7 linked regions of the Homo sapiens genome follow. The protein of the gene in region 7 purifies or fractionates together with the protein of the main gene of each other region. This does not show direct contact. Each region holds a gene or a part of one and is shown on either strand. Other genes may lie near its edges.

Evidence for each region.
Region 1: the proteins of GGH (region 7) and CHST14 purify together in Homo sapiens (affinity purification with mass spectrometry; one large-scale study listed by BioGRID and IntAct). This does not show direct contact.
Region 2: the proteins of GGH (region 7) and TTC13 purify together in Homo sapiens (affinity purification with mass spectrometry; one large-scale study listed by BioGRID and IntAct). This does not show direct contact.
Region 3: the proteins of GGH (region 7) and CLSTN1 purify together in Homo sapiens (affinity purification with mass spectrometry; one large-scale study listed by BioGRID and IntAct). This does not show direct contact.
Region 4: the proteins of GGH (region 7) and MEGF8 purify together in Homo sapiens (affinity purification with mass spectrometry; one large-scale study listed by BioGRID and IntAct). This does not show direct contact.
Region 5: the proteins of GGH (region 7) and EDEM3 purify together in Homo sapiens (affinity purification with mass spectrometry; one large-scale study listed by BioGRID and IntAct). This does not show direct contact.
Region 6: the proteins of GGH (region 7) and TAPBP purify together in Homo sapiens (affinity purification with mass spectrometry; one large-scale study listed by BioGRID and IntAct). This does not show direct contact.

Annotation. Positions count from the first base shown.
Region 1 is NC_000015.10:40,469,421-40,474,104, reverse strand, and holds CHST14 (carbohydrate sulfotransferase 14), read right to left. Parts: upstream 3,122-4,684; 5' UTR 2,892-3,121; coding exon 1,761-2,891; 3' UTR 947-1,760; downstream 1-946. UniProt on the Homo sapiens protein: Catalyzes the transfer of sulfate to position 4 of the N-acetylgalactosamine (GalNAc) residue of dermatan sulfate. Plays a pivotal role in the formation of 4-0-sulfated IdoA blocks in dermatan sulfate.
Region 2 is NC_000001.11:230,923,211-230,927,227, forward strand, and holds part of TTC13 (tetratricopeptide repeat protein 13 isoform a precursor), read right to left. Parts: intron 2,438-4,017; coding exon 2,307-2,437; intron 1,764-2,306; coding exon 1,631-1,763; intron 724-1,630; coding exon 631-723; intron 1-630.
Region 3 is NC_000001.11:9,733,190-9,737,206, forward strand, and holds part of CLSTN1 (calsyntenin-1 isoform 1 precursor), read right to left. Parts: intron 2,854-4,017; coding exon 2,696-2,853; intron 2,427-2,695; coding exon 2,278-2,426; intron 1,986-2,277; coding exon 1,759-1,985; intron 954-1,758; coding exon 783-953; intron 358-782; coding exon 212-357; intron 1-211. UniProt on the Homo sapiens protein: Postsynaptic adhesion molecule that binds to presynaptic neurexins to mediate both excitatory and inhibitory synapse formation.
Region 4 is NC_000019.10:42,370,407-42,374,423, reverse strand, and holds part of MEGF8 (multiple epidermal growth factor-like domains protein 8 isoform 1 precursor), read right to left. Parts: intron 3,724-4,017; coding exon 3,593-3,723; intron 3,075-3,592; coding exon 2,942-3,074; intron 1-2,941. UniProt on the Homo sapiens protein: Acts as a negative regulator of hedgehog signaling.
Region 5 is NC_000001.11:184,747,991-184,752,007, forward strand, and holds part of EDEM3 (ER degradation-enhancing alpha-mannosidase-like protein 3 isoform 2 precursor), read right to left. Parts: intron 1,603-4,017; coding exon 1,557-1,602; intron 1-1,556. UniProt on the Homo sapiens protein: Involved in endoplasmic reticulum-associated degradation (ERAD). Accelerates the glycoprotein ERAD by proteasomes, by catalyzing mannose trimming from Man8GlcNAc2 to Man7GlcNAc2 in the N-glycans.
Region 6 is NC_000006.12:33,307,062-33,311,078, forward strand, and holds part of TAPBP (tapasin isoform 1 precursor), read right to left. Parts: intron 1-4,017. UniProt on the Homo sapiens protein: Involved in the association of MHC class I with transporter associated with antigen processing (TAP) and in the assembly of MHC class I with peptide (peptide loading).
Region 7 is NC_000008.11:63,028,390-63,032,406, reverse strand, and holds part of GGH (gamma-glutamyl hydrolase isoform 1 precursor), read left to right. Parts: intron 1-2,189; coding exon 2,190-2,240; intron 2,241-4,017. UniProt on the Homo sapiens protein: Hydrolyzes the polyglutamate sidechains of pteroylpolyglutamates. Progressively removes gamma-glutamyl residues from pteroylpoly-gamma-glutamate to yield pteroyl-alpha-glutamate (folic acid) and free glutamate.

The sequences.
Region 1 (4,684 bases), on a different chromosome or scaffold from region 7:
ATAGGGCTAACAGAGAAGGGCCAGCTCTGGCCTTGCAACTCTCCCTTGGGCCCAGCAACTCCTGATGGGCCTGGGATCCCTGGAGAGCAGTGGGGGCAATGGGCCATACTGAAGTCTGTCCTCTGCTGCTCCAACTGTATTCCTTCCACAACTTTCTCTGGACCTAAGTCAACAAGAGCCTGACCCTCACTCAACCTCCTTGCCTGCCTTCCTTGTAGTGCCAGAAAAAAATCTCCTTGCTCACACAAAAATTTTCTTTTTCATTTGAAAATGGTCCGGGGCCAGGCGTGGTAGCTCACGCCTGTAATCCTAGCACTTTGGAGGGGCCGAGGTGGGCAGATCACCTGAGGTTAGGAGTTCAAAACCAGCCTGGCCAACATGGTGAAACCCCATCTCTACTAAAAATACAAAAATTAGCCAGGTGTGGTGGTGCGTGCCTGTAATCATCCCAGCTACTTGGGAGGCTGAGGCAATCGCTAGAACCCAGGAGGTAGAGGTTGCAGTGAGCCAAGATGGTGCTACTGCACTGCAGCCTGGGTGACAGATCGAGACTTCATCTCAAAAAAAAAAAAAAAAAAAAGAAAGAAAGAAAATGCTCTGGGGGAACTTCTCATTCAACTCTTATTGAATAAGAGGAGGATCCCGTATCTCCTACCCACCTACTTTTTTAGGGAATAATACATGTAGGTATGCTCTGGACGTGAGGCCATTCCTAACTGGGCTTGCCCTTTGGTGACATCCCAGGATCTGAGTCTGTGATCTGGTATAGCCTATTAGAAAGCCCCCAAAGTCTCCATGGAATGGCAACGGCCCATTGGACCAGCCCAACCAAGTTATACCTTACTTTCTCTATCTACAGGCTGCCTCCCCTGACATGGGAAGACAGACATCGAGGAGATCTGCTGGGCCCACAGGAGCTCCAAGGGAAATCACAGAAATGCTCGCCTTATATATAAAACTGCTTTATTAAAAAGTCAGCTATTAGGAAAACAAAGCCCTTACAAGGGTTCTATCAAAAAGTACAAATTTTAAATAAATGCATCAGAAAAATGGCAGCCAGATATACCAGCCACAGTCACAACCTCAAAGGCCTTGTGGGGAAGGAAGGGAGAATTAGGGAGGAGGTTCCGAGAACTCAAGGAAGAGGCTGGGCACAGAGGGTCTTTGGGTGCCTGCAGAGCTGGGTCCTGGAGCTACCAGGCAAGAACCCTGCTTCCGTTTTCCTTTCCTTGGAAAAATGTAAAGAACTGGCAGGTGTAGGAAATTTTGAGACTGGAGCAGAAAGGCACAAAAGTCATTTATAAGGTATGATTGCTCACTCTAGTCCTGAGGCACATGGGGTGGATAAATGGGGGATCAGAGCCACAGGGTCCCTGGCTCTGGTCATGCTTGCCCCTGGCTGGTACCATCTCTGAGTTTGGCCACAGGTTAAATTAAGGTAGACCAAGTGGACTGCATAATCCTGGCAGCCCGGGGTCTGGAGCCAGTCTTTAGATCAGATGTGTTGCTTCATTGGCAAACTGGTGTCTGCCCCCCAAGAGATCCCCCCAATGAGGAGCAGCAGGTCTCCTGCCTAGCCCTGTCCTCTGAGTCACTGTGGGTGCCCACCCTGGACAAGGAACTTCTGAGGGCAGTCTCTGCCATCCAGGATCCTGAGAAGCCCCAAGCCCCAGAGCCAGAGTTTCTCCGAATGACAGGCAGAAGCACAGAAAGCTGGCGTTGAAACCAGTCCCCACCAGCTGCTGGCCCCACACCCATGGTCACTGCTGACACGCCTCCTTGGTGACATTAGGCAGTGGGTAGGCAAAGAGGGAGAAGTCCAGGATATACTTAGGCAGCACATCCTGCAGCAGGGCCCGGGGGGCACTGCACAAGTGGTAATGCAGGCTTTCGGGGCTGGCTGGCCGGTACCAGGCCTGGCGAGCTGGAAATCGGACGTGAGGTGGTGCCCGTACCCACTCCAGCACCTGATTTGCATCAGCCTCCAGCCTCTCATAGGAGCCCACAAAGTCATAGTGCACGGCACAAGGCTGGCACAGGTGGTACACGGGCATCCAATGCTCATTCATGCGCTCAGGGTCCTCATCCACCAGGTATCTCAGGAACTCGGGGAATGTGACATCGTCGCCTGCAGGGCTGGGCCCCGCTCCAGCCCTGTACCGCCTCACTATCTCAGCCCCATAGCGTTGCTGGTACTCTCGGATCTCGCCAAACTTGTTGCGGTAGGCAGAGAGGAGGCGTTCCAAGGGCTCCCGCACAAACAGGAACTTAAAGTAGTGCTGCAGGCGGTAGCGAATCTCCTCAGGCCGCAGGTCGGCCAGGAACACCAGGTCACTGCGGTGGTCCATCTTGAGGCGGACGTCCACGCTGTCCAGGACGCCTGCCAGCACCTTCATCACCCGCTTCCAGTTAGAGCAGGCCACCTTGGGGACGTAGCAGTAGAGGAAGCGGTAACGGTCACTTACGAGGATGTGGCGCAGCAGGGTGCGCCGCTGCCCCACCGGCAAGTCCCAGGGGTCCCGGGGCATGCCTGGCTGTCCGCACACCGCCCGCAGGGTCCTGTTCCGGACGTCCTGCCGCACTTGCAAGTCCGCGTCCCCAGCCCTGAGGGACAGGCCCCCAGGCTTGGGGGCTTTCCCGCGCCAGGCTGTGCCCTCGCGGCCGGGCGGGTGCAGGGGCAGGGGCTTCATCTCGGCCAGGATGCCCCGCTCGATCATGAGCAGCAGCCCGCTGGAGGCCACGATCACCGCAAACATCAGCATGGACGGCAGCAGCAGGGGCGGCCCACCCAGCCCCGCCCGGGCCCTGCCCAGAGGGGCCCGCCTCAGCGCCCGGCCCAGGGGCTCGGCGCCATTTGGGGCCGCCAGCGGGGTCAGCGGGCGGGGGAACATGGTGCTCAAGGGGTGGGGGCCTGCGCGGGCCCGGCCGATCCGAGGGCGGCCTGGAAGGCGGGCTCGGGCTGGGGGCGGGAGGAGGGTCTGGGACCGGGGGTAGTTGGGGAGGGGAGGGCAGGGGACAGCCCTGGCGCGTGTAGGGGTGGCCGGCTCCCGGGCTGCGGCGCCGAAGCGGGCGGCGGGCGGCGGGCGCGGCGAGGGACCCGGGCCGGATGTCCCGCCCGGCCGCTCTCCACCCCCGGCCTCGCAGTGACACAGGCGCGGGGGCGGGCCCACGCCGGGGGCGGGGAGAGGGGCGGGCGCCCCTGCGGGGCGCGGGCTTGGGAGGGCGCACGCGGACCCCTACCCGGAAGAGGGCGCCTGAGTCAGGGCCACCCCTGTCCTCTGGGCTTGGGGACAAAAGCTCCTGAGACCTCGAAGGCAGAAAAGACTCGAGGCTGCTCTCCTGCAGCGTGTGTCCTCAGGGAAGTGGACAAGGGGGATTCGCCACAAACTCAGGCCTGTCCTAGCCCTTCCTCCAGCAACGGGTCTGGAGGCAGGGAGGCGGGCAGCGCTCTCTCCGAGTCCAGACGTGCCGGAGGCTGGTCTTTCCAGCTGGAAGCGGAGCCCTCGGTGTGCTCCCCCTTGCCACCCTTAACTCCCTCCGTCCTGCAGGTCGTGGCCACTCCAGGAAGGAGAAGCAGAACTGTCAGACACTGACCAGTCTCCATGGTGACCCTTGTGTTTAGCAATACCTGGGGACTGACTACAGTGCTTGTCCACTGGGTAATGCTGAAATGTCTGGAAATGGAGTCTCCCCTCCTCTGCCTTCTCCTCATGAGGCAGTGGGATAACTGGGCACTCTGGGGAGGGTCTGACACATTGGTCCATCAGCTGCTGGTGTGGCCAACACACATTTGGAAGGGTGAGGAGCTGGGGGCACAAAACAGCAGGGAAACAGCACGTAGTCTCCTTGCCTGGAGCTAGATGTGTGCTCCATGGCACCAGGCTGGTCACTTGGGCGGACAGCAGACCCGAAGTGCTTTGGATGTCAGCAACCACCATTTCCCACTGGGAACCTGGCTCAGTAGCCAGACTTGGTCCAGCTATGTGCTTGCTGCCTGCAGAGAGCCAGCAAGCCTCTGAAGCAGCAGAGGAATATGATTAGAGCCCAAGTGTACTGAGGACAGCGCCCACTAAGTGTTTTATATTCATTATCTCCTTTAGTTGTTACAGCCACCCTGGCAGGGAGCTAGTGTGGACATTCCCTTTGTACAGCTGAAGTAACAGAGGCTCAGGGAAGATGTGACTCAGTATGGGTGGTTCTGAGTCTAAAACCTAAATTTCTAATCACGGCCCTTCAGAGATTAAAGGAGCATATCATGGAATGGCTAGAAGGGAGGAAGCAGCTGACTCGAGGGCGGACTGTACAGAGCAGGTGATGGAAAATAGAAGATACCAGTGGGAGAATGGAGCTACCAGTGATCAGATGAATTCAGAAGGGTGAGGGGACTTGAGGGATGAGGTGATACTAGAGGGCTCACTGATGACCCCACAATCCCAGCAACAGGAAAAGCACACAGATGAGCCAGGGGAAGGAACGGTAAAGCCTTGCAGCCTTCCAGCTCTCCAGGGCAGGCTCTCCACATCTGATTGCCCCAGTGCATCTGCAGGCTACCACCTGTCCATTTGCTGCACCAGAAGTTTGCGTGAAGGTTCTGCCTTGTCTACACTGCTCCTTGCTTCCAATAATCCTAAAGGTATACATTTCTGGTGATAGGATTTTCTATTAAAATCATATTTTCCAGTAA
Region 2 (4,017 bases), on a different chromosome or scaffold from region 7:
TATCCTTTAATATTTGTTCACCATTTATTTAGAAGGCAGCTAGGCACATAAAGAAAGAGTGAAGAAGTGAGCATTTCACCCATGTCCCCAACTAGCAGAGCCTCTGGACAAAACAGAAGTTTTCCAGCCAACCTGACTTGCCCTCCCCAGATGGCAGCTTAGTTACCAGATAGTGTTATTTATCTAAGCCCTTTGTGTGTTGGGGTGGAATGGGGAGCCGCCCACCGTGAGAGACTCCACCACGAGAGACTTGTCAAATAATTTATTTGAGCCATGTACTATCAAAAGAATATTATGGTTACTGTAATGTTCTCCATCTAATAATTTTCTATATTTTAAGACTCCTTAAAGACTGACGCCCTAGGAAAACATCTGCAATCTACCCTTCGGTTGTGCTCTACACCAGACAGAAGGGCCTGGGGAAGGAGTATGGCATGCGCTATGTTTCTTTCTGCAGCTGGGCTAGAGGAAAGGAATGCAGGCAGGACTCCACAGGTGCAGAGTCAATCAGTATGTTCCCTGGTCAAAAAGTCACCAGGAAAGGAGCAATGGGTCACTCCTGGTCTCCATGGCCTGTGTCTTGAGAATAAACTCCTAGGAAAAGAAGAAAGATGCACAAAAGGTTCGTACCTGATTAAATTAATGTGGTTGTTAAAACCTCTGCTAAGACTTCGTGCTGGCATTTGATCTAACCACAGCACGGGCTGGTCTGGGTCAGCAATCCTATAAAACAGAGACCTTTATAAAACCAGAAGTGTTCAGAAGCATTCCAAATAAAACATGTAGAAGTGTTTGCAAAGGTGGGGATAAAGCAACAGCTAGTCCATCATATCTAAAAACGTGATGTCCATACCTACAAATTCCAAACAGATGTTCCAGCTGGACCAGGCGAAAAGCCAGGTAAAGGTAAAGGTTTAGGAGCAGAGGACAGTTTTTGTCACGCAAATGAATATCAAAGGTTACTCTAAACTAGCTAGTTGCCAGGCACACCATTATCTGTAAAGGGACTGGTCCAGCGAAGTTCATTCAGAGGTACCACAGGTAATGGATCTGTTCTTTCAAAGAGACTGTTTCTAAAATGCTTCATGTAAATAGGTGATTGAAAATGTGACAACAATCAATTCGTTTTTTTTGTTTTTTGAGATGGAGTCTCGCTGTGTCGCCCAGGCTGGAGTGCAGTGGCGCGATCTCGGCTCACTGCAAGCTCCGCCTCCTGGGTTCACGCCATTCTCCTGCCTCAGCCTCCGGAGTAGCTGCGACTACAGGCGCGCACCACCACGCCCAGCTAATTTTTTGTATTTTTAGCAGAGACGGGGTTTCACCGTGTTAGCCAGAATGGTCTCGATCTCCTGACTTGGTGATCCGCCCGCCTCGGCCTCCCAAAGTGCTGGGATTACAGGCGTGAGCCACTGCGCCCAGCCAATCAATTCCTATTTTGAAAATATTAGTTAAGTGTATGTCAAATAATAAAGATGCCAGCAATTTCTAACAAACTTTAGAGAGGAAAACCTAACTTGGAAGGCCTGGTGTTAGCAAGCAAAACAGGGTTCATAGCCTGTTAGCTAAAACAGACTGACGTTATTTGACAATGATAAGACTTATAGTTTATTTTCACTGAGATGTTAGTTACCTTCTCCATTTAACTGCAATGTCAAACATGTCTCTCCACTGCATCAACCGTGTCTTCCCATTCATTCGAACTTTCGAGTTGGTCCATGTACGCTGCACGGCTTGCATGACCTCCAATGCGGCCAAACCCATAGCTACGAGAAAGGAATATCGAGAAGAGTTAGTACACTTTAGAGGGACTGAGTTCCACCTACTTTACAGAGTCTCAGTGATAACTCAAGAGTTAACACATAAAGGGTCAGAAGTATTGGTGATATAACAAGACCCAAGGCACGTTTCAGTCATGATGGTCCTACTAAAATTAAAACCCATCAGAGTTAACTGAAGACAACTCAAGTTGTCTGCTCCCAACTCTGCCTCCTACTGAAACAAGTGGAGGTTTGCATTCTTCCTCACTCCTATAGTAAGGAAATAGCTCCCTGGATCAGCTGTCTGATTTTGAGTAAGGACTTAAGACCTATATTCTAGTTTATACTACAGCAATAGCAAAAAAGCCAAGGATGGAAGCAGTCTTCTTTCAGAATTCAGTTTGAATGATTCTACACATTTCTATTCTGATCACATGGAGAATTTGAATAAGCACAATAAATACTAATTTATTAAAATGCACAACATGGCTTAACCACCCTTCCTCTTATGCCAGGAATATTTTCATTTTCAGGTAGTTTCCAGAATACCTCTGTGTATTCTCTTGTTTGGCAGGAAACCAGGTGTTTCATATTGCATCAGGGATCCCAAACGATCAGCCACACAAATCAGCTCCTGTACTTCAGGCTTATAACTCTCAAAATTCTGATGTAACACATCTCTGGAAGAAACATCATGTACATGATAAGGACTTTTACAACAGACATTTGGTAATCCAATTCCACCTGAGAAGCAGTCACTTCCTCCACGGGAAAACTAATGAAGCAGTCTACGACCACATAATCCTTACTTCAGTCCTTTGCACCCAACCATACCTCAGCTTAAAAGGGAATCTCTATGATGGCATGTGCATAATTGCCATCACATGCTGGTTAGTAACAGTGAAAACTATGATAACTAGTATGCAATTCAGAAGACACCTCTTTCCATTATTTGCTTTGTAAACTTCTCCAGAATACATTCCTGAATGGACTGCCTTTTTCAACAAGCAACCAAACCTCTGCCCTTTGTCCACTCCTCAACCCTGCCCAAGTTGTATTAGAACAAGTATACTTGGAATGATACATTGAAATACTACTGTTTAGCTGCCAACCTGCTTGATGCTTTTATAACAAAGACTGAAACTCTAAATTACAGGTTGTTCTGGGGATCTCCAAGACCATCCTTACTCAGGCTCAGAAATTGGCTGAAAGGGCTCAGTGGACTTAGCACATAATGATACTCACAATAGTGAGTATCATTTTTTATTTTGTGTCCTTTACAAAACAAAACCGGCAGAGGGAAGAGGCACATTGGGAGAAGTCTGGAGGAAACCAGTCACAAGCTTCCAAGGGTCCTCTCCCAAGGAAGTCATATATGACACATTAAATTCTCCCAGCGATTAGTTGCGAACACGTGTAAAATGCTGCCAACCAGGAAAGCTCATTAAAGACTCAGTGGCCAGGGTTACAGACAACTTATGCCTGGCAAGTTCCCAAATTCCAGATACCCAGAAGGAAAGCAAGTGTTGAATAGAAATCACACTGTTTGAACACACAGTTTAGGCACAGGGAACCTCTCCTATTAGTTTTGGGAGTGGTAGGAATCCCCTCGAAATCCAAGTTCCCAGATACCAACCAAGGGTCACTCTTGCAAGCAGTCCTTTCTAAGGACAGCAGTCATAGACCTGCTACTATGTTAACTCTTTTGTGCATCGAAATATTTCTCAAAAAAGGAGTAGTTCGAGAACATGCATAATCTCCATGAGCAATCAATTTTCTTTTTATTATTTTTGCTCATTTAATAGTTGAGACACATAGAAAACACGAAGTCAAATTACCCAGTTTAAGAACTAGAGCAATTCATGCAGTTGTATCTACTTGTATGCTGCTTTCCTATCCCATCCTCCCATCTCTTGAAATGTGTGCTCCTGACTCACGTACCTTTTTAAAAACTAGGTTTGTTACATACATGTATATATACAATATACTCTACAGTTTGGCTTATGAGCTTTGGGAGAAAAAAATATGTGAGAGCACAGCTTACTGACTTGCTGCTTTTATTCAACATTACATTTTACAATTAATCCACATTGTTGCCTCGGTCATTTGTTTATACTGCTGTATAATATCCCATTGTGTGACTGTATCACATTTATCCATTCTTCTGTTGATGGCATTTGGGTTGATTTCCAGTGTTAGCTGTGAACAAATTCTGCTGGCAGACCTGTATAAATCTCTCCTGGTAGACATGTGCACAAGT
Region 3 (4,017 bases), on a different chromosome or scaffold from region 7:
CCCAGCTCACCCCAAACACAACTTGTCACTCCAACAAGCCCAGGTGTAACCTGCAGCAGGCCCCAGGCTGGAAAGGCGACCCCCTAGAATGAGCCTGTATAGCTGCCATCATGAATGCTCTGAGGTTGGCGTTTGTGAATATTAGGGCTGCAAATCAGCGCCCTCACTCACTGCTGCTATTGGCCCTGCTCAGTGGGAGCCTTGTACTCACCTCCACCTTAAATTCGTTGCTGATGTAGCGGCCATTCAGCTCTGAGCAGATGAGCTTAAACTTCCGGTCAAGCAAGGACCTGGCATGCCAGTTCCGATAGCGCAGCAGGTGCAAAACCTCCTCGTAGCTGGCCATGGTGTCCACGCCTGCAGGGGTTGAAAGGGGGAAGATTGCCGGGTGGCTTAGGGCAGGAGCATGGGCAGGGCTGCAGCCGTCAGCACAGGCAGGCTCAATTAGACACCCAGGTTAGCTAGGCCAAGGGGTCACACAAGTTGGCTTTCTAGCCATGGGAATAAATGCAATGTGCACAGGGGCATTCTTCCCTCTGTGGGGGACGTGTCATCCCACGCCTCAACCCTCCCCCTTTAGAGAGTAGTGGCTACACATCCGGTACCTGTCCAGGAGACAGGAGTATGCGTGCAGCCAACAATGATCCCAGCGAACGTGCTCCTTCCCCATCTCCCTCTAAGATAACTCAACATTCTCAGATGGCAGGCAGCAGCCAGCCAAGAGCTCTCAAAGTCCCCTCTTGCAGCCTGGCCCACCTGCGTGGCTGCAGCGCTCCCCTTACCTGTGAAGGTCATGCCCAGTTCAGAGCTGCTCACTTCAATGCCCTTCTGCTGCAGGCGGGCCATGTCCACCTCCAGGCTCTCCTGCTCGTGGTTCAGCTCCTCTCCCTCCACCGTGACCTCACAGGTATCCAGGTCGTGCACGATCTCCTCGGACACCAGTGATTCTTGAACTGCAAAAGAGGCCCAACCAGAAATATTAAGTAGGGGCAGTGGGGCCCAGCGTGGCGGGGCACACTGGATGCCCTGCCGGCTCACCCCAAACCTACATGGCTCTCGTAAGGACCAACGACAGAAGCAAGCGAGAGTTGCTTTCAAGAAACGGCTGGGCGCAGTGGCTCACGCCTGTAATCCCAGCACTTTGGGAGGCCAAGACGGGTGGATCACCTGAGGTCAGGAGTTTGAGACCAGCCTGGCCAACAGGGTGAAAGCCCGTCTCTACTAAAAATACAAAAATTAACCGGGCGTTGTGGCAGGTCCCTGTAATCCCAGCTATTCGGGAGGCTGAGGCAGGAGAATCGCTTGAACTCAGGAGGTGGATGCTGCAGTTAGCCAAGATGACACCATTGCACTCCAGCCTGGGCGACAGAGTGAGACTCCATCTCAAAAAAAAAAAAAAAGGGGGGGAGTTTCATGTGTCCTGAGCAAGAATTGTGGGGACATTGTGCCTCCATGGGCTGGCCAGCCTGGCAGGTGCAAGCAGTGTCTCCCGTAAGTGCCCTCAACCCCTCAACCTCAAGCCACATCTCAAAGCCTGGCAGCAACCAGGAAAAGATGTAAGACCCCTCCAGATGGGATTCCAGAGATCACCATGAGCTCCAGCTCACGGGTCAGATTCCAGAAGCACACCCGAGAGAACACCAACGAAAGATTAAAACCTCCCCAAATCCCACAGAGACAAAGAGCCCCGCCAAGTACATGGGGACAATGGGGTTTCCGGCCGAGGCGAGGGAGCCCGCGCCCCACAGAGCACATTACCTGTGGGGTCCTCAGCCCCGTCCCCTTCAGGCTCCACTTCTCTCGTGATGGTGCTGATGATGCGAAGCTCAGGGAAAAGGAACACCCCTTCTGAGCTTTCAAATTCAGAAGCTGCTCGGGCAAAATGGTGGACGCCACTCAGGCTGATCTTGGGCTCCTCGGGCTGTAAAACCATCACGTAGCCATCTACCGGGGGGACCGAAATGCAGGTGGCCTCGTTAAAACACCTGCCAGCAAGAAATGGGGAAGGGTCAGGGCTTTGGGAGCCGATCTTGGAGCCCACCTGTGCAAAGGCACATGGAGGTGGGATACAGAGGCCCCCACTAACACCTGCCGGGGCCACTCCAGGAACACACTTGCAAACAAGATGCGTAAATATCACTCAGCTCTCTGCCCCACACTTTCTGGTTACACACGATGGCTCACCTTTCCTTACAGAAGGGGTTAGGCTGTCTTAAAAACCTAAATATACAAGTGTCATTGGGCAAAACAGGCCGGCTGTTAAAAATCAGGACGTACTTGATTGTGCTGGTGATTTTGAGTCTGCGAATTCCGGGCGTGGGGAACTGCCGGGAGTTCAGGTACGAGATGTGCTGCATGGCCTTATCCAATTCCCCGAGGTCTTCTCCCTCCAAGGTCAATACCAACTGGCTGGGGTGTGCTTGGATCTGAAATCACACCAGCCACAGAGAGGAGAAGAATAAGCCAGTAACCGCAGGAGCTGAAACCACAGATGCCTCCACAAAGGGGACTGGCCTGGGTTCGATTTGAATTGCTGACTTGAAAAAGAAAAGCTCGTTTAAGTCCAGTGAACACAACTCTTTTACCCAACAGTAAACGTATCAATCACAGATTACTCACTCCCTCATCCCACCAGCCTCCGGGGCTGTAGTCTAAGGGGCCCATGAGTGGTGTGCAGTCGAGCGCTCGGTGTTACCTGCACGCCTCTGCCACTGTCTTCGAGGACCTGCAGGTCCAGCCCCTCCTTGCAGGTATACAGACAGTCGATCACCTTCTTATCCGCGAGTTTCCCGGAACGGAGAGTTAAGCCAGCCAGATTGCCTCGGAAAAACTGGGTCATGTGCAGGTCGCCACCTTTGGGTCAGGGGAGAAAAGGCGAAGTCAGGCGTGCAACCCAGCATCGCCCAACTCACTTCTCACTCAACACGGTGTTACCGGTGCTGGCAGCTCAGTGGATGGACATGCGGGTTAGTTCATACCAAGTCCTGTTAGCCTTGCAATCTACATGGAAGCGCAATGAAGAAATTAAACCGTTTATGATCATGCACATGGCCTGGAGAAAGGGAGAGTTGGGGGTGTCTCACCTGAAGCCAAGAGGTCCCCTGAGGGTCCCCACACCTCTGGCCACTACCTGGTAAGGTGGCCTACCCTGTTCTCATCACCAGGGTGCATGGTGACACTTCCTACGCCACCAGCCTCTCCAGCCACTGCCTTCTCAGCTGGCTGGGTTCCACATGGCTGTTTTCTCTACCTGGCACGCCCTGGGGAATGAACCCACACAAGCGAGGCAGGGAGGATAAAAGGGAGGCTTAAAATACTCCCTGCATGGAACGGCCTATTTCAAGGATGCTATGGTGTTAAGTCCCATCCTTCCTGCCTCCTCCTGAGGATTGCTGAGAAGTGCAGATGTTACAACGAAAACCAAAACCCAGAAAATGGCCCTTGACAGATGACAACAAAGAGCCAGAAACAGGTTACACTAAACCTTGTTCTTAAACTGAAAAGGAAAAGGGACAAATTTTCAGCAATGTGTCTCATTCTGGTACAGAAATCAGGCACTGTAAATCATGACTAGGAATTGAGGTTTCTAAGAAACGGCTATTTGCCAGGCATGGTGGCTCACGCCTGTAATCCCAGCGCTTCAGGAGGCCGAGGCGGGTGGATCACCTGAGGTCAGAGTTTGAGACCAGCCTGGCGAACATGGCGAAACCCCGTCTCTACTAAAAATATAAATATTAGCTGGGCATGGTGGTGCATGCCTGTAGTCCCAGCTACTTGGGAGGCTGAAGCAGGAGAATTGCTTGCACCCAGGAGGTGGAGGTTGCAGTGAGCCAAGACCGCGCCACTGCACTCCAGCCCAGACAACAGAGCGGGACTCCATCTCAAAACAAAAAAAAAAGAGAGACGTCTATTTAAAATTTACTGTCAATCAGGACAGAATATCTAGAAACAAGTCTTTTCCTGTCTCGTGGTTCATCCACATGACAGTCACGAGGCGGCCTCCCAAACCCTGCCTGT
Region 4 (4,017 bases), on a different chromosome or scaffold from region 7:
TATCGGCTCACTGCAACCTCTGCCTCCCGGGTTCAAGCGATTCTCCTGCCTCAGCCTCCCGAGTAGTTGGGATTACAGGTGTCCGCCACCACACCCAACTAATTTTTGTATTTTTAGTAGAGAAGGGGTTTCACCATGTTGGCCAGGCTGGTCTCGAACTCCTGACCTTAAGTGATCTGCCCGCCTCAGCCTCTCAAAGTGCTGGCATGAGCCACTGTGCCCAGCTAGGACATTTAATGTCTCTGAATCTGTCTTCCTCTTAAGTCTGTACCCCACTGAGGCCCCAGCACAGTCTTGCAAAGCCTTTCATATCTATGCTGTCACCACTGTCTACACAGCACAGCATCCAGCTCTGTGGCAGGCGCTCCTGGCATTCTAGTTATTACTGCAATCACTATTAGAACCAAGAGAAAACAGACGCAGTGACTCATGCCTGTAATCCCAGTGCTTCAGGAGGCTGAGGCAGGAGTGCCGCTTGAGCCCAGGAGTTCGAGACCAGTCTGGGCAACATAGTAAGACCCCCGTCTTTAAAATTTTTTTAAAATTAGCCAGGCATGGTGGTGTGTGCCTATAGTTACAGTTACTCAGGAGGCTGAGGCAGGAGGATCACTTGAGCTCAGGAGTTCAAGGCTGCAGTGAACTATGATTGCGCCATTATACTCTAGCCTGGGTGACAGAGTAAGCCCTGTATCAAAAAAAAAAAAAAAAAAAAAAAAACCCAAAAGCCCAACCAGGCACGGTGGCTCACGCCTAGAATCCCAACACTTTGAGAAGCCAAGGTGAGTGGATTGCTTGAGCTCAGGAGTTCAAGACTAGCCTGGGCAACATGGTTAAAACCCCATCTCTAAAAAAAAAATTAGCCAGGTATGATAGCACATGCTTGTAGTCTCAGCTACTCAGGAGGCTGAGGTGGGAGGATGATGGAAACCAGGGAGGCAGAGGTTGCAATGAGCTGAGATTGCACCACTGCACTCTAGCCTGGGTGAAAGAGCCAGACCCTGTCTTAAAAATAAATACATTAAAAAAAAGAACCGGCCGGGGGTGGTGGCTCACGCCTGTGATCCCAGCACTCTGGAAGGCCAAGGTGGGCAGATCACAAGGTTAAGAGATCAAGACCATCCTGGCCAACATGGTGAAACCCTGTCTCTACTAAAAATACAAAAATTAGCGGGGGGTGGTGGTACGTGCCTGTAGTCCCAGCTACTCGGGGGGCTGAGGCAGGAGAATCGCTTGAACCTGGGAGGCGGAGGTTGCAGTGAGCCAAGATCACGCCACTGCACTCCAGCTTGGCGACAGAGTGAGACTCCGTCTCAAAAAAAAAAAGGAACCAAGAAAAACTGCTACTTCTAAGCAGCCAACAGACCTGGTAGAGGAGGAGGTCTGATTTAATCTCTGAGACTCCCTGGTAAAAGCCAATAGGCCTTTCCCTTATCAAGAAAGCAGAAACTCTGGGCTGGGTGTGGTGGCTCACGCCTGTAATCCCAGCACTTTGGGGGGCCAAGGCAGGTGGATTGCCTGAGCTCAGAAGTTTGAGACTAGCCTGGGCAACATGGTGAAACCCCATCTCTACTAAAATACAGAAAATTAGCCAGGCATGGTGGCACACGCCTGTAGTCCCAGCTACTCAGGAAGCTGAGGCAGGATAATCACTTGAACCCAGGAGGTGGAGGCTGCCTCGAGCAAAGATCCCACCACTGCACTCCAGCCTGGGCAACAGAGCAATACTCTGTGTCCAAAAAAAATTAAATTAAATTAAAAATTAAAAAAAAAATAAAAAAGCAGAAATTCTGGCCCAGGATAGAAATGTTAAGGGTCAGTAAGGCTTGTAAAACTGTTGCCATTTGGGGTGGCAGCTATTATGTTTGCAGCTATTATGTTTCTGTAGATGGGTAAGGAAGACTGAGAGCAAGGGACTTTCTCTTCCCTCTGGGACTGGAGAGAGAAGGTGGCGGGGAGGTGGCGGGAGTTGTCCTCTGAGGAAGGAGCCTGGGACATCATGGAGGCAAGTCTGGAACACAGCAGCCAGCCAGGTGGCCAGTGCAGGCACTCCAGGAGCCTCTGTGCAGAAGAAAAAGGGAAATGCACTCGAGGGGAATTTGAATCTGGGTATTAAATGATATGAGATCTCTGCTAGCCTCAGTTCATCAGAGGGGGTCTGCCAACTGGGAAGAATCTGCCTGAAAATGAAGCCAATGCAGAGGAAAGCAGAGTCAAGATGCAGAGAGACTTCTGATGGCATTGTGTGAGCACCCGGATATAGCCAGTCCTGAAGGCAGACCCCAGACCCTCAGTTCTAAGAGTCAATACATTTTCTTTTCTTCTGTTGTGTGTGTGTGTGTGTGTGTGTGTTTGTTGTTGTTGTTGTTGTTGTTGTTGTTGTTGTTTTGAGACAGAGTCCTGCAGCCTCGACCTCCTGGGCTCAAGCAATCCTCCCACTTCCACCTCCCAAGTAGCTGGGACCACAGATGTGCACCACCATGCCAGGCTAATTTTTAAATTTTTTTTCAGAGATGGGGTTGCACTATATGGCCCAGGCTGGTCTTGAACCCCCGGGCTCAAGTGATCCTCCCGCCTCAGCCTCCCAAAGTTCTGGGATTACAGACATGAGCAACCATGCCCAGCCCATTTTCTTTTTTCGGTTGAGCTACCATGGGATAGATTTTCTGGCATGTGCCACCTTTAGCTGTGACTACCTGTAATGGAGACTGTCTCCCCACCAGTCTGAGAGTCCCCCAGAGGCTCATATCTTGGTCCCCAGCATCACTGCCTAGGGCCTGTAACTGAATGGGGCTCAGGAACAGTCTGTCAAGCTGCACTTGATCCCAAAACCACTGATTTGGAACCATGTTGTCAGTCCTGCCCGAGCCTGGCTACCTCATCCCAGCCCTGACCTCCACAAGGTGTAGGGCCCTCGGCCCACCACTAGCTTCTGCAGCCGCACCTGGTACTTGTAGCAGTCTCGACGGTCACTGGGGGAGCTGCCCTGGCATGTGCCCGTCTCTGTGTTATTCTGACATGGACAGCCCGTCCCATCCTGCTCGTTACATGTGTCCGCGTGGCCATTACACTGGCATCTGGGGAAGAAGTTGAGGGTTACGGAGCCCCCATGGCCTGCAGTGGTCCAGGATGGACACCCCATATGTGAGCTCAACTCTGTGCAACAGGCCAGAAGAGGAAACTGAGGTTCACAGAGGTCAAGCTGTTTGCCCAAGGCCACAAAGCAGTTAAATTACCATTGGGATTAGAACCCGAGTTGCACAGACTCCAGCACTCACTGAACACTCAGAAAGAAGGAGATGGAAAGGGGAGGTTGTTCCAAGGCCTCTGCCCTCAGCCGCCCCATCTTGTTCTCGATGGGGCCGCTCTGTGGACTGCACTTCAGCACTAGCCTTGGAGGTAGGGAGTGGCATCACATTCCAGCTCCTTCCCTACCCTGACCCCAGCCTGGGCGCTCCCTGGGGATGTCATCCTCTCCTGACTGGGGGTGGAGGACTAAAGAGGGGGCCTGGCTCCAGAGCTACTCCCAGTGAGAAGGGTGGGATCCCCGGCCTCCCCCCCCCCCCCCCCCCCCCCCCCCCCCGGTTCCTCTTACTTGGTGCACTTCCCGTCCAGGAGGAAGTAGCCCTGCAGGCAGCTCTCGCATTTCTCCCCATAGCTGTTATTCTGGCAGTTCACGCACACGGCCTCGTCTTCACTAGGACCCTCTGTCACCCAGTTTTCAATCTGGCCAAGGAAGGACAGTGTGATCATAGAAAGGCCTGGACCAACCCCCTCCTCCCTCAGACCCAGGAGTCCAGGCTCCTACCCACTCCTCCCTCAGACCCAGGAGGCCAGGCTCCCACCCCCTCCTCCCTCAGATCCAGGAGTCCAGGCCCCAGCTCCTCTTCCCTCAGACCCAGGAGTTCAAGACCCCCACCTCTACTCTCTCAGACCCAGGAATCCAGGCCTCCAGCCCCTCCTCCCTCAACCCAAGGGTCCAGGTCTCCAGCCCCCTCCTCCCTCAGACCCAGGAGCTCC
Region 5 (4,017 bases), on a different chromosome or scaffold from region 7:
TTATGAGATGGCTAAGGTCTGAGGGTATAGGATGGAACCACTTGGCCATCTCAAAATCATTAGCCTAGATTTGTTAAATTATGCTTTGCCCAAACTGAATTAACCAGGGATAAATGATTTTGAAAGAAATAAGGGTTGACATGTGGGTGACAAAAAAAAATTAATTAAAAAACAGAACGGGTGTAATGGCTCACACCTGTAATCCCAACACTTTGGGAGGCAGAGGTGGGCAGATCACTTGAAGTCAGAAGTTCGAGACCAGCCTGGCCAACATGGTGAAACCCCATCTCTACCAAAAATACAAAAATTAGCCAGGCATGGTGGCACACACCTGTAATCCCAGCTACTCAGGAGGCTGAGGCAGGAGAATCACTTGAACCTGGGAGGTGGTGGCTGCAGTGAGCTGAGATAGTGCCGCTATACTCCACAGCCTGGGCGACAGAGCACAACTCCGTCTCAAAAAAAAAAACAAAAAACAAAAAACAAAAAAAACATTAAGGGAATGACTGAGGTCTTGAGAAATAAATTTGAAACTGTGTTTTTAATGTTGAAATGTATCCAAAAAAAATCATATCCTAAAAACATTAAGAACTCAAAATGTGCTCTCTCCAAATTTACAATATAAAAGAGAACGAGGACTGTCAAATATAAAACATGTTTTAAAACTAAAAATGCATAAATTACATATATTTAGATGTTCATAGATAACAATGATGTTAGTGTATGAAGATATTTGGTTAATATATGATAAAAAATGGATTCACAGAATCAGTTGAAAAATATTTTAAGCAGAACTAAAGCTAGTCCTCTGCCAAACTTTCCCAACTACATTTTATACGTTGTAATCATAGAAGAAAATCTGCTGACATATTTTAAAATGTAAAAACAAGGTTATAAGGGATAAGTTTCAGGATAATATGCTTAAACTCTTTTCAAATTACAATTTATGTGCAAAATTTTTTTTGAATTCCAGAATTTGCTATTTCATCTACGTTGTTGCACAACAGATCTCCAGAACTTTTCATCTTGTAAAACTGAAACTGCTATTTAATCTTAAGTGAGCCCTAAAACATTTTTAAATAATATGAATCAGCAAACTAAAAAGCAAAATATATTCAGTGCAGAGTCCATGAGGATACAATTAGGACAGAGGCTAAGTAACAATTTCTCTTTTAAGCAATGGTTTTCTTCAGTGTATAAATATTGTAAACATTTTTTTAAATTAAGAGAATAATCTCCCTTAAGACCAGAGATAACATCTTCATGTATATATCCACAATATCTAGCTATATAAAGCACTCAATGATAATTGTTGATGGCACCCAAGGAAGCTGTTTAAATAATGAAGTTTCATAATCTAATTTCAATTTATTCTTATCTGTTCAATAAACTGGTTCCCTAAAAACCACTACCAGAAAGACTATTTTTGCCCTGTTTTTTAAAAACTTCCTTTTAAAAAATGTAATTGTATTGTAGGTTTCAAAATTCCCAGTTGACTGTGCTCACATAATAATCAACTCACATAAATGGTAGGTAAAGATAAGCTTCCTACTTACCATATAGTTACCATAAGCATGATCAAACATTTCCAGTACTTGATTCCTAATTTTAAAAGAGCAGAAATGGAAAAAAAAAAAAAAAAAGGTAAGTATATTCTATTTATTATCTTTCAAAAAGTTAATTCTTCCTCATAAAAAATATACCAATAAAAACAAAAGAAAAATTTAGGTAGAAAGGGACATAAACAGAATCAGAAACTACAACAGCTAGCAGACAAGCTTTCATGAACTCACCACACAGAGCTGAGCCAAACTTTAATGATTACTAGTAATTTATGTACAATTCATCTTATAATTTTTCCTAAGAAAACTGATGAATGATAGATGCCATCATCAGAGAAGGAAATCTGATGCAGAAAAACAATGACCTCTTAACACAATTATTTAACGTATCTGTCTTGAAGCGGGGGTTTTGCTGGACAGCCCTTTAAAAAAACCATTATTATTGCCATTTATTGCTTCCCCTATATGTTCTACTAAGAGAGAGGTACACAGGTGTGTAGTGACATGAAATAACAACGCTTTATGAAGCCTCTGCCTTTGCACTTACATTGAATAAACCACTAATGCCTAGTTTAAGTACATATTTATTAATGTTTGTCATATTTTCAAAAGATACTTTTTATGATGTGCTCTACTCTAAAAAAACTGTCAAAAATCAAATAAATAGTATTCACTTCCAAAATGAGAAAACTAATGCTCAAAAAGAGAGTTGTGTGTTTTGGCGAATTCTGTTTCACAAAATCTCCGTAACCACTGTTTAAAATGGAGATGTCTGATCACTACACCAGAATTTTACTAAATCAAAACCTGTAAGGTTGCGACTGAGGAAGCAGCCTTTCAATTAAGCACTCTCAAGTTCAGGGACTTGAGGACTACAGGAAAAAGTACAAGTTAATTGTATGACCAGACAAGGCCAAATAATTAGCAAAGGAAAACACAGCTTAACAATTTTTTATTAACTTTTTCTTTTTTTTTTGAGACAGGGTCTCACTCTGTCACACCTAGGCTAGAGTGCAGTGGCACGATCTCAGCTCACTGCAACCTTCACCTCCCAGGTTCAAGCGATTCTCCTGCCTCAGCCTCCCGAGTAGCTGGGATTACAGGCGTCTGCCACCATGCCTGGCTAATTTTTGCATTTTCAGTAGAGACAGGGTTTTACCACGTTGGCCAGGCTGGTCTCGAACTCCTGACCTCATGTGATCCACCCGCCTCAGCCTCCCAAAGTGCTGGGATTACAGGTGTGAGTTACCACGCCCGGCCTATTAACTTTTCTTTTACCAAAGTTCCAATCACTGATGGCAAGAATTGAAAAAAGTGTTAAAGAAATTGCTGACTATATTTTTATTTGCCTCCTGTTATACTGCAATTGTCATTTTTAAAACTATAATCACAGATTATGAAATACTGGTAATAATAGAGCTAGCAAACAGAAAAGACCTCAGTTCCAGATCCTGACTATGAACACCAACAAAATCAAGTACACTCAAACTTGTGAACGAATTAAGTCCTGACAACATATGAATAATAACCACTTAAAAACATTTCATTATTTAAAAAAAGACCTTACCACCACTTTGCTAAAGCACTAATTCTTTGTAAGTTTACATATATATATATGTTTATATATATATAATTTTTATATTTGTGGTTTACAGCTCTAGACTCTTATCCTGTCCTAAGCAGAAAAAAAAAAGTTTAAAATGTCCCTTTCAGGAACTCATATCAATGAATGGAAGATGGAAGTCCTCTTTTTTTTCCTTCCCTGAAATGGAATACGAGATTATTACCAAGAAGTAGAAATTCCTATAATTGGCAATGGTAGTGCCTAGACATGTATATTACAAATGACATAAGCTTTAACTTGCTAACTCAACTTTACAAGCATTCAATTTTCAAGACTGTAAGTAAATCATGATTGCATACAAGGAGAATACACTATTTTCCAATCCTTACATTTATGCAGCATATGATGAGCAAATTTTAGAACACATATTTCAAAGTGGAGCTATTTAATATCATTGCTCTTACACATAGAAGCCTAACAAAGTCACATTTAAATACAGAATGGTATAATAATTACTATACTGAACAGAAAAAAAAATTTCCATAATGTTTTATCTATTCAAAAACTGGATTAAAATGTATTGGAAATCAGACCCAGTTCAAAAATTACACCACTCTTCAGTAATTTCTGTAAGTCGGCTTTTTCTCTTTTTTTGAGACAGAGTTTTGCTCTTGTTGCCCGGGCTGGAGTGCAATGGCACGATCTCTGCTCGCTGCAACCTTCGCCTCCAGGTTCAAGCGATTCTTCCTGCCTCAGCCTCCCGAGTAGCTGGGATTAAGGGCATGCGCCACCACACCTGGCTAATTTTGTGTTTTTAGTAGAGAAGGGGTTTCTCCATGTTGGTCAGGCTGGTCTCGAACTCCCGACCTCAGGTGATTCGCCCGCCTCAGC
Region 6 (4,017 bases), on a different chromosome or scaffold from region 7:
TGGATTACCTGAGGTCAGGAGTTCAAGACCAGCCTGGCCAACATGGCAAAACCCTGTCTCTACTAAAAATACAAAAATTAGCCAGGTGTGGGGGCAGGCACCTGTAGTCCTAGCTACTTGGGAGGCTGAGGCAGAAGAATCACTTGAACCTGGGAGGTAGAGGTTGCCGTAAGCTGAAATCATGCCACTACACTCCAGCCTGGGCAACAGAGTGAGACTCCGTCTCAAAACTAAATAAATAAATAAAATAAAAATCCCAAATACCTAGGAAGTCAGCTGATAAAGGCATAGGCTGAAGCTATATGGCCTGGGTTCAATTTCTAGCCCTGCTTCTTTTTTTTTTTTTTTTTTTTTTTTTTGAGATAGAGTTTTGCTCGTCACCTAGGCTAGAGTATAGTGGTGTGATCTTGGCTCACTGCAACCTCTGCCTCCCAGGTTCAAGTGAGTCTCCTGCCTCAGCCTCCTGAGTAGCTGGGATTACAGGCGTCCACAACCGTGCCCAGCTAATTTTTGTATTTTTGGTAGAGATGGGGTTTCACCATGTTGCCCAGGCTGGTCTTGAACTCCCGACCTCAGGTGATCCACCTGCTTTGGTCTCCCAAAGTGCTGGGATTACAGGCATGAGCCACCACGCCTGGCCTCTAGCTCTGCTTCTTACACACTGTGTGTCCTTGGGCAAATTATTTAACTGGTTTGTGTCCTATATTTATCCATATGCAATACAGGGATAATATTAAAACCTACAACCTATGGTTGTTGAGAGGAATAAGTGAGATTATGCATATAAAGTGCTTAGAACAGGGCCTGGCATATAGAAAATACTTGATAAATGTTAGCTGTTACTATTTTCATTACCTTCATCACTATCATGGACTTGCTGGTTAACTTGGAAAAATCATTTAACCTGTATTTTCCTCACTAGTCCAAAGATCTGACCTTTGCCTATCTTTTAAAAGAATCAAGTAAAATAACAGGCTTTTTCCGGGCATGGTGGCTAACACATGTAATCCCAGCACTTTGGGAGGCTGAGGCGAGTGGATTACCTGAGGTCAGGAGTTCGAGAGCAGCCTGGCCAACATGGTGAAACCCCATCTCTACTAAAAATACAAAAAAAAAAAAAAAAAAAATTAGCGGGGCGTGGTTGTGGGTGCCTGTGATCCCATCAACTTGGGAGGCTGAGGCAGGAGAATTGCTTGAACCCAGGAGGCAGAGGTTGCAGTGAGCCAAGATCACCCCATTGCACTCCAGCATGGGTGACAAGAGTGAAACTCCGTCTCAAAAAATAAATATGTACATAATAAAAACAGGCTTTTTAGAATAACACGCCCTCCAAAAGAACTTCTGATGGTTCGCTCTCACCTACAGAACAAAGCCCAGCTTTCAAGGTATTTGAACATTCAGCCCCTAACCCACCCTTCCAGGCTTCTCCTGCACCCTACAAACCAGCCACATAGAACCCCTTTCTTGTGCCTAGTAGAAGTGGTCATCATTGGTCATCTCTTTGCTTTGGTCATGAGGTCCCTTCAGTTTACATTGTCTTTCCCATTTTCTCCCAAACATCTATCAAGCTTGTCCAACCTCCAGCCCAGGGACCACATGCAGCCAAGGACGGCTTGGAATACAGCCCGACACAAATTCATAAACTTTCTTAAAACATTATGAGATTTTTTCACATTTTTTTTTTTTAGCTTATCAGCCATCGTTAGTGTTCGTATATTTTATGCATGGCCCAAGACAATTCTTCTCCCAGTGTGGCTCAGGGAAGCCAAAAGATTGGAGACCCCTGATCTAAATACTCCATGTACATGAAGGTCACTTTCACTGCTGTTTCTTCCCAGAAATGTCTAGGTCCTTCAGGTAGAAGTAATCTTTTTCTTCTTGTAATTATTTTTATGTTCTTTTTAATCCTAGCTTCTGAGGCCTATAAGGTTAAACTGTTCTCATCTTCATGGAATTGTTCAGTAGAGTAAAAACAGTATGCAATTTCACTTAGTTTGTCAAAATCCAGAAACATACTTTTGAATTGTTAAAAAAAAAAAAAAAGATCCACAGGCTGGGCACAGTGGCTCACGCCTGTAATCCCAGCACTTTGGGAGGCCGAGGCCGGTGGATCACCTGAGGTTGGGAGTTTGAGACCAGACTGGAGAAACCCCGTCTCTACTAAAAATACAGAATTATCCGGGCATGGTGGCACACGCCTGTAATCACAGCTGCTTGGGAAGCTGAGGCAGGAGAATCACTTGAACCTGGGAGGCGGAGGTTGTGGTGAGCCGAGATCATGCCATTGCCCTCCAGACTGGGCAACAAGAGCAAAACTTGATCTCAAAAAAAAAAATCCATAGAATTAATAAACAAAACCTGGCTGGGCAGGGTGGCTCAGACTTGTAATCCCAGTACCTTGGGAGGCTGAGGTGGGAGGATCACTTGAACCCAGCAGTTTGAGACCAGCCTGGGCAACATAGCAAGACCCCATCTCTATTTAAAAGAAAAAATTTAAAAAAATAATAAACAAGACCTAAAGGTTTTACAGTTTAACTCTTTTTTTTTTTTTTTTTTTTTTGGAGACAGGGTCTCACTCTGTCACCCATCAAAGGTGCAATCCTCCCAACACAGCCTCCCGAGTAGCTGGGACCATAGGTACATGCCACGACACCCAACCTTTTTTTTTTTTTTTTTTTTTTTGAGACAGTTTCACGCTTGTTGCCCAGGCTGGAGTGCAGTGGCATGATCTTGGCTCACTGCAACCTCCGCCTCCCAGGTTCAAGCAATTCTCTTGCCTCAGCCTTCCGAGTAGCTGGGATTACAGGCATGCACCACCATGCCTGGCTAATTTTGTATTTTTAGTACAGACGGGGTTTCTCCATGTTGGTCAGGCTGGTCTTGAACTTTCGACCTCAGGTGATCTGCCCACCTCGGCCTCCCAAAGTGCTGGGATTACAGGCATGAGCCACTGCGCCCAGCATTTTTTTAATTTTTAGTAGAGACAAGGTCTGGTTATGTTGCCCAGGCTGGTCTTGAACTCCTGAGTGCAAATGATCCTCCCACCTAGACCTCCCAAAGTGCTGGAAGTACAGGCGTGAGTCACCTCACCTGACTCCATAATATTTTAAAAGAATGGTGAGAATTAAACACTATACACACAAAGTATATTAAGAAAGTATAGGCCTGGCGTGGTGGCTCACGCCTGTAATCCCAGCAATTTGGGAGGCTGAGGTGGGTGGATCACCTGAGGTCAGGAGTTCAAGACCAGCCTGGCTAACATGACCAAACCCTGTCTCCACTAAAAATACAAAAATTAGCTGGGCCTGGTGGTGGGCGCCTGTAGTCTCAGCTACTTGGGAGGCTGAGACAGGAGAATTACTTGAACTCAGGAGGCAGAAGTTGAAATGAGCAGAGATCACACCATTGCACTCCAGCCTGGGCAACAGGGTGAGACTCTGTCTCAAAAAAAAAAAAAAAAAAAAAAAAGTATATTTGGGGCCAGGCAGCTCACACGTGTAATCCCAGCAGTTTCGGAGGCCAAGGTGGGCAGATCAATTGAGCCCAGGAGTCCAAGACCAGCCTGGGCAACCTGACAAAAACCCATCTCCACAAAAAAAATACAAAAATTAGCTGGGCATGGTGGCACATGCCTGTGGTCTCAGCTACTCAGGAGACTGAGGCACGAGGATCACTTGAGCCACGGAGGTGGAGGTTGCAGTGAGCTGAGATCATGCCACTGCTCTCCAGCCTGCACTGCACTCCAGCCTGGGCGACAGAGGGAGACCCTGTCTCAAATAAATAAATAAATAAGCATATTTGTCAATAAACATTTAAAAATATTTGATAAGACAAGTATAAATGTATATTAGCAAAATCATGAATGATCTTGGACCCTGGAGAGATTTCATTTCTAATTTTACATCAGTACAACAGCTTTCATTTTCTTAAATCCCTGATCAAGCAGAAATGCTTGAAAAGAAAGAGCACAGCAGGCCGGGCGTGGTGGCTCATGCCTGTAATCCCAGCACTTTGGAA
Region 7 (4,017 bases):
AGGAGCCCATGGACTGCTGCTTTTGGTTTAAAAACGTGTTTTGTTCACACAGCGTTTTAAAACATGAATCAGGCTGGGCGCGGTGGCTCACGTCTATTATCCCAGCACTTTGGGAGGCTGAGGTGGGAAGATCGCTTAAGTTCATGAGTTTGAGACCAGCTTGGGCAACATGGAAAAACCCCTATCTATAAAAAATTTTTAAAAAATGAGCTGGGAGTGGTGGCGTGCACCTATGGGCCCAGCTACTCAGGAGGCTGAGGTGGGAGGATCACTTGAGCCCAGGAGGTGGAGGTTACAGTGAGCTGAGATGGCGCTACTGCACTCCAGCCTGGGTGACAGAGCCAGACCTTTCTCAAAAAAACCCCAAAGACCACAAATCAAACTTTATAAGAGTCTGAATTTTTGTTTCTTTTGAAGACAGTTATCTAGATTGAGTTTTAAATGGGGCAAACACTCCCCATTGGCAACAATGCCTTACCATCCTTTTCATGCTGCTAAAGCTGTGTGTCATTTGCCATCATCACCAGGCTTAAGCCATTTCGTTACAGTTAAGGAGAGAGTAAACTGTTCCTCATACCTTGTTGAAAGGGACTTTTGTTTCAAAAAATGTCTGACAACATGCAACTAACAGCTGTATTCTCTGCCAGGGCCCCTAGGCACCAGAGTTGTGACATGGCACACTCCTTCCCCTGTGACAATTAGGTCTCTTAATAGAGATAAATGGGGACCAAAACTATAGTCATGGACAGTGTGGGAGCCATTTATTTAGAATTAATGAAATGACTGAAACTAGCTTGCACCGCTAGCTGGCAGGAATCCTTGGAGTGCAGCTGTGTGATCTAAATCCATTTTGGTCCCTGATGGCGATGGTTGCCCATTTTGGTTTAAATATCCATGGGGAGAATTCTGGGTCCTGACTGGCTGGTTCCTTTTTGTTGCCACAATCTGGGGAGATTAGACTGGCAGAATACTGGGTACATGTATATTGATATTTCACCTCCCTATCACTTCCCAAGGCAGGGCTACCTGTCAGTATTTTCTCCACTTAAGAATGGTAAGCACCATTCTGGTATCACCCATTGCTTTGTGGCTCTCGCCAGGAAGAGATTACTATGAACTTGTGAGAGACCTGGACTTGCAAAGCTTGTTTGGACTTAGAGTAGATCCCAGAGTTGTTTGCTGGCAAAACACAGCCTGTGTTCTGGATATCACAGGTGTCTAGTTAATAATGGGTGTGAGGGACTTTACCTCCCCCTAAAACTTCTTTGAGGGCAGAAATGGACTAGTTGACATCTAATCATAAGTCTACTTCTTTTAGGGCAGGTTGAGAGGACAGGTACCATTTATTCTGTCACAGAAACAGAAGGCTGCTAAATGTGGGAGAGTTCTTGCAAGGATTTCACTAACTTGGTGCTCTCTTCCCTTATTGTTGCATTTTATTGAACTTTCGGGAGAGCAGATATCTGTGACTTAGTAAATGTTGTCACCATATGTCACAGATTAAGCCCATCTTTTTTTTCTGGAGAAAGGGAATAAAGTCACCAATAACATGGCGATTGTTAGGAGGCCCTTAAGGGGTGTTTGATCAAGGGTCTTTCAGAGTAATTACCTGGGCAGTTAGGCTGTTCTACAGTCATCTCTCTGTGGTCCTCAGTTCAGACTAGATGTGAACCATCCTGACTTTGAAATGCAGAGTAGTCCCTAGACTGTTGCAACTAGTTTGTTGGGGTGGGATCAGGCAGCGACTTGGCATTTATTTATGCATTTTTTAATCTGCCAGAGCTTCCTGTAGTTAAATAGGCATGATAAATAAAGTTATTTAAAGGAGTCTTTACATAAAACTACTGAATATTCTTACATTTCTTTTTGTAGTTCTTGGTTAGTAGAGAAATTACTGGTGGCCAAATCTCACGGTCTTTACTGTTTTTGCATACTAACACATACTTCACAATATTAAATTGCATTAGATCACAGAAAAACATATTTACTTGTCTGATTAGCAAAACAAGGATAGAATGATGTGGCTTTCAAGTGGTTTGCAAAAATGCCTCTAGAAAAGTAGAGAGGTAATATTGTCTAGTAATTAAAAATTTGTTTTTATTTGGCTTTTTAAAAGTAAATGTGGAGACTTCATTTAGAGGTTTACTTCTAAGTTTCACAAATGTAACAATAACTTTTATTGTTTTCAGGCTGGATCTTACAGAGAAAGACTATGAAATACTTTTCAAATCTATTAATGGGTAAGTTGGCAGCATTGGTTTCATACGGTATATGAGTGGTCTACATATGTCTGCTTTTGTAAAAGAAATCATATAAATATTATACATGTTTCTATGTAACTGTCTTAGAGTGGTATAGTATTAGTGTTCTGAGTTCTTTTATAGGATTTATTTTCTTGGGAGATGCAAAAGTCCTTCAAAAGAGGAAGAGGCAGGTTAGGAAATGTATAATTGTTACATAGTAGACACACATAATTTTTTTAAATGTGTGACTTAATCTTTGTTCTTTTAATGCTTGTCTTAAATGTTTTGAAGCTACCTTGAATGGCGTGGCATACTGCTTGCATATGGGGTTTATAAGTCCAAAGTCTGAGGATGTTGATTTTTTTTTTCAGGTAAATTGGGAAAAAATATTCACCATTACTCTTAATTTTAGGAAAGAAGGCTAATTACAGCAATCAAAAACATTTAATTACCATGTTGGCAGAGATCAGAAAATTTGCTTATACTCTATGGGGCCTGTGAGGAAACAAGTGTGCTCATACTTTATTAGAGGGAATGTAAATCAGGTAGTCTTTTTTGGGGTAATATTGCAATACCTATTGAAATTAGAAACACGTATACCCTTTGACCTGGGAACTTGAGGAGGAATTTTATTTTATAAATATATTCCCACCTTGCATGAAGACTTAGACTCAAATCTATGCATTGTATTAGTAGTATTGTCTGACAGTCACCCCGTAATCCATCAGGTGAGAATTGGTTAAATAAAACAGACTATGTACATTCAATAGAATACTATGCAGGAATTAAAAAATGCGGCTATCTGTAGATGCTGACTTAGATCACCATTGTCCTATGAACAATGTGATAGTGTTATGTGAAAAAGGCAAGGCACGTGATGGTGTGTATAGCATACACCCCGTTTGCTTTTTGTTAAAGGTGGGGGTGAAGAGATATGCATATTTCTACCAAATCAACACAGCAGATTTTAATGGCAGTTGTTTCTGATTGGGAATAGGGTGGAAGTATTTTACTGTAAAATGTTTTTTTAAAAGAGCTTTATTATTTTTACTTCTAAAACCATGTTAATTTATTGTTTCTTTTAAAAAGCTATGTTTAGAAAATTATTTGCCTTCAGTTCAGTTTGGTTCAGTAAATATTTACCATAAAATCAGTTCAATTTAGTAAAACATTTACAATGCCCAGTATGTGCTGTGTGCAAGGTACTTTGGCATGGACAAAGATCATTAAGTCTAGGCTAGAATATAATAGTAGAACCTCAAAAATAGACCTTTTGAAACACTTCATTTTCTTCCCACCCTCTCCCCAGTTGCATTCCTGTTTGGAGAGGAATCTGAATCAAGTAGCAGTGTAGACAGGAATACATACTTTGGGGAGCTAGCCTGTCCAGATGCTCAGTATGTCTTCATGCAAACCAGCAAAAGGAGTCCATTTTCTATCTTCCTCACTCGTTTTCTGCATTGCCACTAATTGTTGCTCCTGTAGGCCCCTTTTCTCTCTCATGTAGTCACTGAAAGCTGCACTCCAAAGTGGGTTAAATTAGGGGCCTTATTTATATCTCTGAGTGTCACCAGAAAATGAGCCGTATTCTAATGTGACTTCAAAAGCACCTTTATTGAGTCACTGTTATGCAGTGGACCCCATAGTATTTTGCAGGGGAATGCAGAGATGAAAAGACAGAGCCATGCTTTAAGGAGTTTGTCATATAGGAGGGACAGTCAGGTTTTGCTGCATGAAAGGAGTTTGGGGTTAGACATACCGTATTTGGTCATAG